Homo sapiens: one gene and its partner. The protein of the gene in region 1 purifies or fractionates together with the protein of each later gene. This does not show direct contact. Each region holds a gene or a part of one and is shown on either strand. Other genes may lie near its edges.

Region 1 (4,356 bases):
CACCAATCTCCACAAGCACTCTCATCTCAGGGTGCCTCGGGGAGGGCAGAGGAGGAATACTTGGGCTCAAAAGTCGTCTTTGGACCACTTTCAGATCAGTCTGGTGGAAACGGTAGTGTGAGCGCTATGCTACTTGAGACTGCGTTTGAAAATCTCTTTCACGTTCCCAAATCAAAGCCACTTTGAGGTTTAAGAATGATAACCACAGGTGAATGCCTTACTCTTTCCACGAGCCAGGCCTTTCCTTTGCATGACGCAGACCGGCGGCTGAGACCCGTCCTGAGGCCCCGCCTTTCATTCGGTTTATGTGGCCCCGCGCAGTTCACGCAGTTTTCTCCGTTCTTAGGCAACCAGCTCGTGGGAAATTCACTCCAGAAAAGCGTGCGCCATATCATTATTTTGCGATTCAACAAACTTTTTCAACTGTTGTTCAGGAACTAGATTCCAGATAGATCTTGTTGTGTTCGGCCTTCCTAGAAATTCCTTTTCCAGAGGAAGAAGATCCGGGTTGGGAAGAGTGCGTGACTATGGCCCCGGGCTCATTGAAAGACTCCTCCCCACAAAAGTTTAGGGCTGATACTAAACGAAGCTATGGAGCCATGCCCACACAAATACTCCCCCTTTACCCGAATTGTGGGGCCTGGACTGTGAAGGCCTTCGCTGCAAGAGCGGGCACTGGCGAACTTCAGTGCACGCCGCGGCCGAGAACGGATGCAGGGCGGGGGATGGCTGAGCCGCCTGATCCTTGCAGAGAACCTGCAGGGGCCCTCGGAGGGTATCCCCTGCGTCCAAGGGAGCGCCCCTCCTTTTCAGCACTCGGGGGAACTGAGGGCGACGTGCCAGCCCCGCACTCAACTTTCCCCTTCCCTGCAGGCACAGAGTTGGCCGGCGGGGGCAGAGGAGGAGCTGGGTCTCCACTGCGCCCGTTTAAACCTGGCCAGGGGCTGCGTTTCCTCCCCCCACCCCACGACGATCCTTTCTTAGTCTTCGCTTTTCAACCCAATCGTTAATCATTCGGAACGCGCGGGCGGGGAGCGGCGAGGAGGGCGAGCTCGGGGTTCGCCGCCGCCGCCGCCGCCGCGCGCGCGCGCTCAGGAAGCGGTGTGGCTGTCACCCCCTCCCGGGCCTCCTCCCCCCTCCTTCCTGCTTTGCTCCCCCTCCTTCCTCCCCTCCTCCCCGCTCCGCCGCCCGCGCCCAGTGTATCTACTCCCTCCCCACGTCACTCGCCAGCGCGCCATGCAAATCACCGCCGCCGCCGGCTCCCATTGGCCGCGGCGCGCTCATTTAATGGCAGCCCGGGCCCGGCGTATGGCTGCTGGGCCCCGCGCGCCGCCGGCCCCGCGTGCGCCTCCGCTCCGAGCGCACGGCCCCGGGCAGGCAGCGGGCAGCCCATCCCGGGCTCGGCGGCCCCGGCTCTCCGGCCCTCTCCGCGAGCCCGCGCTCCTCCCGCTGTCCCCGGGCCCCTCCCTGGCTGCACCGTAATCGCCCCCTGCAGGCCCCCCTGCGCCTCCCCCCCCCCGCCACTGGCGCCTGGCTTCCCCCGGGCACCTGGGACCAGCACATGCCCAGCGCACGCGGCGCGCCGCCCTGCTAGAAGTTGCAGCCTCCGAGTTGGAGGCCGCTGAGGACCGAGCGCAGGAGGAAGGAGACAGCGCGCAGCGGCGGCCGGCGAGGAGACAGCACACCCCGGGCCGGGCCCAGCGCACCGCTCCCGGCCCCAAAAGCGGAGCTGCAACTTGGCCACGACTGCACCTGTTTGCACCGCTCCGCCGAGGGCGCCTGGGCTGCGGTGGCGGCGAAGACGGCGACCCCGACCGTCGGCCTCTTTGGCAAGTGGTTTGTGCATCAGGAGAAACTTTCCACCTGCGAGCCGAACCGGCGCCGAGTGCGTGTGTTTCTGCCTTTTTTTGTTGTCGTTGCCTCCACCCCTCCCCATTCTTCTCTCCGCTAGGACCCCCCCGCCCCCGTCTCACTCCGTCTGAATTCCTCTCCGTCTCCCTCCCACCCCGGCCGTCTATGCTCCAGGCCCTCTCCTCGCGGTGCCGGTGAACCCGCCAGCCGCCCCGATGTACAGCATGATGATGGAGACCGACCTGCACTCGCCCGGCGGCGCCCAGGCCCCCACGAACCTCTCGGGCCCCGCCGGGGCGGGCGGCGGCGGGGGCGGAGGCGGGGGCGGCGGCGGCGGCGGGGGCGCCAAGGCCAACCAGGACCGGGTCAAACGGCCCATGAACGCCTTCATGGTGTGGTCCCGCGGGCAGCGGCGCAAGATGGCCCAGGAGAACCCCAAGATGCACAACTCGGAGATCAGCAAGCGCCTGGGGGCCGAGTGGAAGGTCATGTCCGAGGCCGAGAAGCGGCCGTTCATCGACGAGGCCAAGCGGCTGCGCGCGCTGCACATGAAGGAGCACCCGGATTACAAGTACCGGCCGCGCCGCAAGACCAAGACGCTGCTCAAGAAGGACAAGTACTCGCTGGCCGGCGGGCTCCTGGCGGCCGGCGCGGGTGGCGGCGGCGCGGCTGTGGCCATGGGCGTGGGCGTGGGCGTGGGCGCGGCGGCCGTGGGCCAGCGCCTGGAGAGCCCAGGCGGCGCGGCGGGCGGCGGCTACGCGCACGTCAACGGCTGGGCCAACGGCGCCTACCCCGGCTCGGTGGCGGCGGCGGCGGCGGCCGCGGCCATGATGCAGGAGGCGCAGCTGGCCTACGGGCAGCACCCGGGCGCGGGCGGCGCGCACCCGCACGCGCACCCCGCGCACCCGCACCCGCACCACCCGCACGCGCACCCGCACAACCCGCAGCCCATGCACCGCTACGACATGGGCGCGCTGCAGTACAGCCCCATCTCCAACTCGCAGGGCTACATGAGCGCGTCGCCCTCGGGCTACGGCGGCCTCCCCTACGGCGCCGCGGCCGCCGCCGCCGCCGCTGCGGGCGGCGCGCACCAGAACTCGGCCGTGGCGGCGGCGGCGGCGGCGGCGGCCGCGTCGTCGGGCGCCCTGGGCGCGCTGGGCTCTCTGGTGAAGTCGGAGCCCAGCGGCAGCCCGCCCGCCCCAGCGCACTCGCGGGCGCCGTGCCCCGGGGACCTGCGCGAGATGATCAGCATGTACTTGCCCGCCGGCGAGGGGGGCGACCCGGCGGCGGCAGCAGCGGCCGCGGCGCAGAGCCGGCTGCACTCGCTGCCGCAGCACTACCAGGGCGCGGGCGCGGGCGTGAACGGCACGGTGCCCCTGACGCACATCTAGCGCCTTCGGGACGCCGGGGACTCTGCGGCGGCGACCCACGAGCTCGCGGCCCGCGCCCGGCTCCCGCCCCGCCCCGGCGCGGCGTGGCTTTTGTACAGACGTTCCCACATTCTTGTCAAAAGGAAAATACTGGAGACGAACGCCGGGTGACGCGTGTCCCCCACTCACCTTCCCCGGAGACCCTGGCGACCGCCGGGCGCTGACACCAGACTTGGGTTTTAGACTGAACTTCGGTGTTTTCTTGAGACTTTTTGTACAGTATTTATCACCTACGGAGGAAGCGGAAAGCGTTTTCTTTGCTCGAGGGGACAAAAAAGTCAAAACGAGGCGAGAGGCGAAGCCCACTTTTGTATACCGGCCGGCGCGCTCACTTTCCTCCGCGTTGCTTCCGGACGGCGCCGACCGCCGGAGCCCAAGTGACGCGGAGCTCGTCGCATTTGTTATAAATGTAGTAAGGCAGGTCCAAGCACTTACAAGTTTTTTGTAGTTGTTACCGCTCTTTTGGGTTGGTTTGTTAATTTATACAAAGAGATTACCACCACCACCCCCTCCTTCAGACGGCGGAGTTATATTCTGGGTTTTGTAAAACTTTATGTATCTGAGCATTTCCATTTTTTTTTTTGGGTTTTGTATTATTTCTTGTAAATGCATTGTGAAAAATTTTATTTTCGGCGTTGCAATGCGGGGAGGAGAAGTCAGATTATGTACATAGTTTTCTAAAAAGCCTTTCTTCTAAAAACGAAAAAAGACCCCCCACCCAAAATGTTTCGAGTCAACAAATTTAAGAGACAGAGCCCATTTTCTCCATAAATTTGTAACATGCTATTTTTATGTGCATGTTTTATGAGTTCAAAATGCAATGAGGAAATCTGACAGGGAAATTATCTGTATGAACTAAAAGTAAGGGAACCCCGGGGAATGGGAGGACAGGATTTTTCAAGGAACCTTTTTCAATGAAAGAGAAGGAAGTTAAAACCTATAGGTTATTTTGTAGAGCTGAGTGTTAATACGGGCCGAGAAATAAAAGTATCTTCTGCTCCGGCTGTTTCACTGCGGACGGCTGGGGCTGCTGCGCGTTACCTTGCTGCAAGCGGGGCGCCTTCCACCTGGCTGG
Region 2 (3,809 bases), on another chromosome or scaffold:
GGGCTGAGCCTGAATAATCATGGTATAAACAAGCCTGTTGGGCTCTGACTCTACCTAGATCAGAGACTACGTAGGGCTGTATGTTTTGCCCTTCAGCGCCTTCATCCCCTCACCTGTGAAGGGAGATGATTCTTAATTCTGTGGTTTCTGGAGAAGTCAAAAGAGAGACAAAATAAAGCATTCATTGTTCTTGTGTTTGGTAAATTCCCTCTTATAGGAAATATATTTCACTTTCCTAAATAAGATAATAACACGAGGCCCTAAACATTAATTCCAGAAATTCTGTTCCATTATTCTTCCTCAAGGGGCCCTCTTTTCCTTAGTACCTTGACTGAACTCTCAGGAAATTTCATTAAGCAAGATTACCACCACTACCCACCAAAAGCTTAATGTTTAATGCTAATTATTCCCTAGCATTCCCTATATATCCTTGTCTTCCACAGACACAGATTTAAATTTTTAAAAACTGGATCTCTAAGTTTCAAACATACTAATTTTTACTTAAATGAAGCTTCTTCCCAGATAGATCTGGTAGGAACCTAAGTGAAGAGTTAATGATTTAATGTATGATTTAGTTGCAGGGCTTGAGTTAAGTTGGTTTATGAATTACCCAATGAAGAGAGGCTCCAGATTATTCATCAATGTCCACAAAAATAGGTTGGGGTGGTGGGGAATGGGAAAAAAAAATCACAATCAGTTAAAATTTGCTGTAATATTTCCTTATATTTGTAGAGCTGTTTAGAATTCACCCAGTTTGCAGGATTAAAACATTTTCAAATCTTGAGGAAGAATGATTGGGTTATAAATTTGCAGGTGATTAGGATAAAAAAAATTCAGCAAAGCAAACCATTTAAGGGAGACAACCTATGTATGTTTTTCCTCACTCCTCATGACTAGAATAGTGCAGCAAACGCTATTATTCTATAATAGCTAGCAATGGAATAGTAAGTGAAAATTCACCTGGAGTTTCATGTTAACTTGAGCTGGGCTAAAAGACACACTTAAAAGAATACTGAGTTGTTTAAATGGGAATCCTCGGACTAAAGATTATATTCAATTTAAAGGATTAGCTGAAAAAAGTCTAAGTGTGGCTAGGCAAAGAGGTTTCCAGAATCCTTAACCACATCTCAGTATTTATCCTGCCACTGAGGACACTGCTAACAGAAACTCCATGCTCTGCGTTACCCTCCAAAACATGTTTTCTGTGCTGTGCTTCTACACTGGAGACACCTGGAAAGAAGGACAAATGGGCTTCGCTGTGGGTCCATGGAACACTTACTGATTTTCACCCAAAGTAAAGACCTTAGAAATGAAACAGAGGTAGACAAACAACTCTAGAGAAAAGTAAACACAAAATAAAAGTCACTGAAGTCCCTCTGAGAATGAATAGGAAGAGGGCAATTAAACAGAAATACTAACAGTCTTGGTGATGTTACTTAACACAGGCAGCCTCGGCTGGGTCAAGATGGAGAACAGTAACAGTAGAGTTCTCAGATCAGGTCAGTTAAGGAACTGGTGTAAGTGCCCCATATAATGTTTTTAAGAAAGCAAACAGTTTCCCCCCCTCCAAATTCTGTCATAATTTTAGTGTTTATGTAGCTTAAAAATGGCATCATACAAAAAACCTCATACATGGCTGTAAGCTCAATTATCAACAGAGGTAGTAAACAAAGGAACTCCTAAGAATCGATTTTAAAATGATCAAAGTGTGACTATACATTCAAAACCCTAGAGCCACATAATCATCCCCAAAATGAACTGTTTTAATTTTAAAAAGTTTAAAAACACAATGACAATGAAGCACTGATATGCCTTAGGAACAGTCCCAAATCAGTGCTGACTTAAAGCTAAGTCCTCTCTTTCCAAGAAAAAGAAAGCAGAGAACAAAGTTCAATCTACAATGGGAGGGAACAGAATGAAAACAACCAAAAGGGTGCTTTCCAGCAGCCTAGGTTATTCTTTGTTTTCAGGCCACACCACTGGAAATGCTTTTCTTCTTATATAAGTCTTTTCCTCACAACCTTTATTTTTTAAAAACTGCCATCTGCTGAACAAGAGATGTCCACATTTCCACCAGCAGGTGATCCACTTCTGTGCACAGTTTTTGCTTCCTCACTGTGAGTCCTCCTTCCCCGAAAGTGCAAAGAGAGCAAGCTGATACCTGCAGGCCCCAGAGCCCCAGGACTATTCCAGCTCCACTTATAAAGCAGGGTGAAGGATTTGCTGCATTTGTGCTTCAAAGATCCAGCTCACTTTGGTTGTCCTTCTCAGTTGGCAAACTGCTCATAAAAAGCAAACTTGATCCTCTCTATGTGATGGCAAAGTTTGATGGCAGGGCCCAATTTTAAGTCCATGCATTCTTGAACAGTGGGAAGGGTAAGGAGCAACAGGGCCTGCCCATCAATTTCCTGTTAAAGCATAAAAGACAAATTATCTGTGATGTGCACATGAAAGGCAGCTTGATCATGACAGCCTCTCCTCACTTTAGCTCTGTCAAAACTGGAATCCCTATGCTTTCCTTTCCTTACTTTTTCGTCTTAGGTATCACACACTTCCTTTTAAGTGACTCCATAGTCTTCCACACTAATGAAGCTTCAGAATTAATAAAGTTTTACTGAGGACAATAAAGTTTTACCAAGGATAAGAATCCATTCCAGAGTCTCTGTCCCATAGAAATTTAGTAAACTGACTAGCCCTGTAACTGGCAACTAATTGTGCCATCTTTTTAGAGGGTTCCTTCTAAATCTGAAACAAAGGATTAACTATCAACTTCAATGTTTTCCTACTCTGTAACATTCATAAAAACCCGATAAGCTCTTGAATCTCCCTAATTTTCTAAACAAAACTTATTTCAATGTTTAAGGCCACTGACTGTGTTTCAGCAAGCTTGCCTTAAAACTTATCACCACTCTAGAGCCTAATGTGACAGATGCTATTTTTTTTTAAACAAGCAAATCATTATTTTTGAAAAGATGTGGACAATTAAGCATGGTATGCTTGATATTGGAGGGATGGAATCAAATTCTTAGGAAAAACTGGAATGCAATGATAATCTCCTTCAACTATGAAGCAAGTCTGATAAATAACTTTTTATCATCTTTGACTCCTAAAAATGGAATTAAGACAATTCTTGTCTTTTGGATCAAAACATTTTTCCTAAAACTTGTAAATAAATTGTTGACTATTACATCCATAATTTATTGCTAAAGAGACATTACTAAAAATTATAGGTATCTGTGATTACCTGGTCTAGGAATATTCTTGCTAATGGAGCACAGTCAGTGGATCTGATGAACCGCACAACGTCTGCCACACTCCACTTCAAGGGGTTACTGTCCAGGTGAAGCCTTTCAGCAACTTCGATCCTTATTTCCTTCATTCCCCACAACACAATCAAACCAAATGGTGTTACGGCTATTTTATTCTAAAAAAGTCTCTCTACCTAAATTCATAATCTTTCAAGACATGATTTAAAGTGGTCTTAGGACATGATTTCTCCCAGCAAAGATGGCAAAGACCCACGTGCATCAGGTACTCAGGAAATGTCTGTCTTTTATAATACGAAGTATCAATGGGAAAGAATTTATCTCAAAGTTCCAGCACAGATAATTTAGACAATTTAACTAAGAAAAACAGGGTGCTGAAGAGAAGGGGATGATAATTCCATTGAGAGAAGGCTTAACTAAACTACCAGGAGGAATCTTTACTGCTTCTGTTCATGGAATATTCTTAAAAAGCAATCTAGTTTTTGAACACTAAATTGTTCTTTAGTGTTATACATATGTTATAAAATGTTCATATGTATATAG

What was found.
Region 2: the proteins of SOX1 (region 1) and SFMBT1 purify together in Homo sapiens (affinity purification with mass spectrometry; one large-scale study listed by BioGRID and IntAct). This does not show direct contact.

The regions. Positions count from the first base shown.
Region 1 is NC_000013.11:112,065,593-112,069,948, forward strand, and holds the start of SOX1 (transcription factor SOX-1), read left to right. Parts: upstream 1-1,556; 5' UTR 1,557-2,066; coding exon 2,067-3,242; 3' UTR 3,243-4,356. UniProt on the Homo sapiens protein: Transcriptional activator. May function as a switch in neuronal development. Keeps neural cells undifferentiated by counteracting the activity of proneural proteins and suppresses neuronal differentiation.
Region 2 is NC_000003.12:52,902,869-52,906,677, forward strand, and holds the end of SFMBT1 (scm-like with four MBT domains protein 1), read right to left. Parts: intron 3,374-3,809; coding exon 3,245-3,373; intron 2,409-3,244; coding exon 2,268-2,408; 3' UTR 704-2,267; downstream 1-703. UniProt on the Homo sapiens protein: Histone-binding protein, which is part of various corepressor complexes. Mediates the recruitment of corepressor complexes to target genes, followed by chromatin compaction and repression of transcription.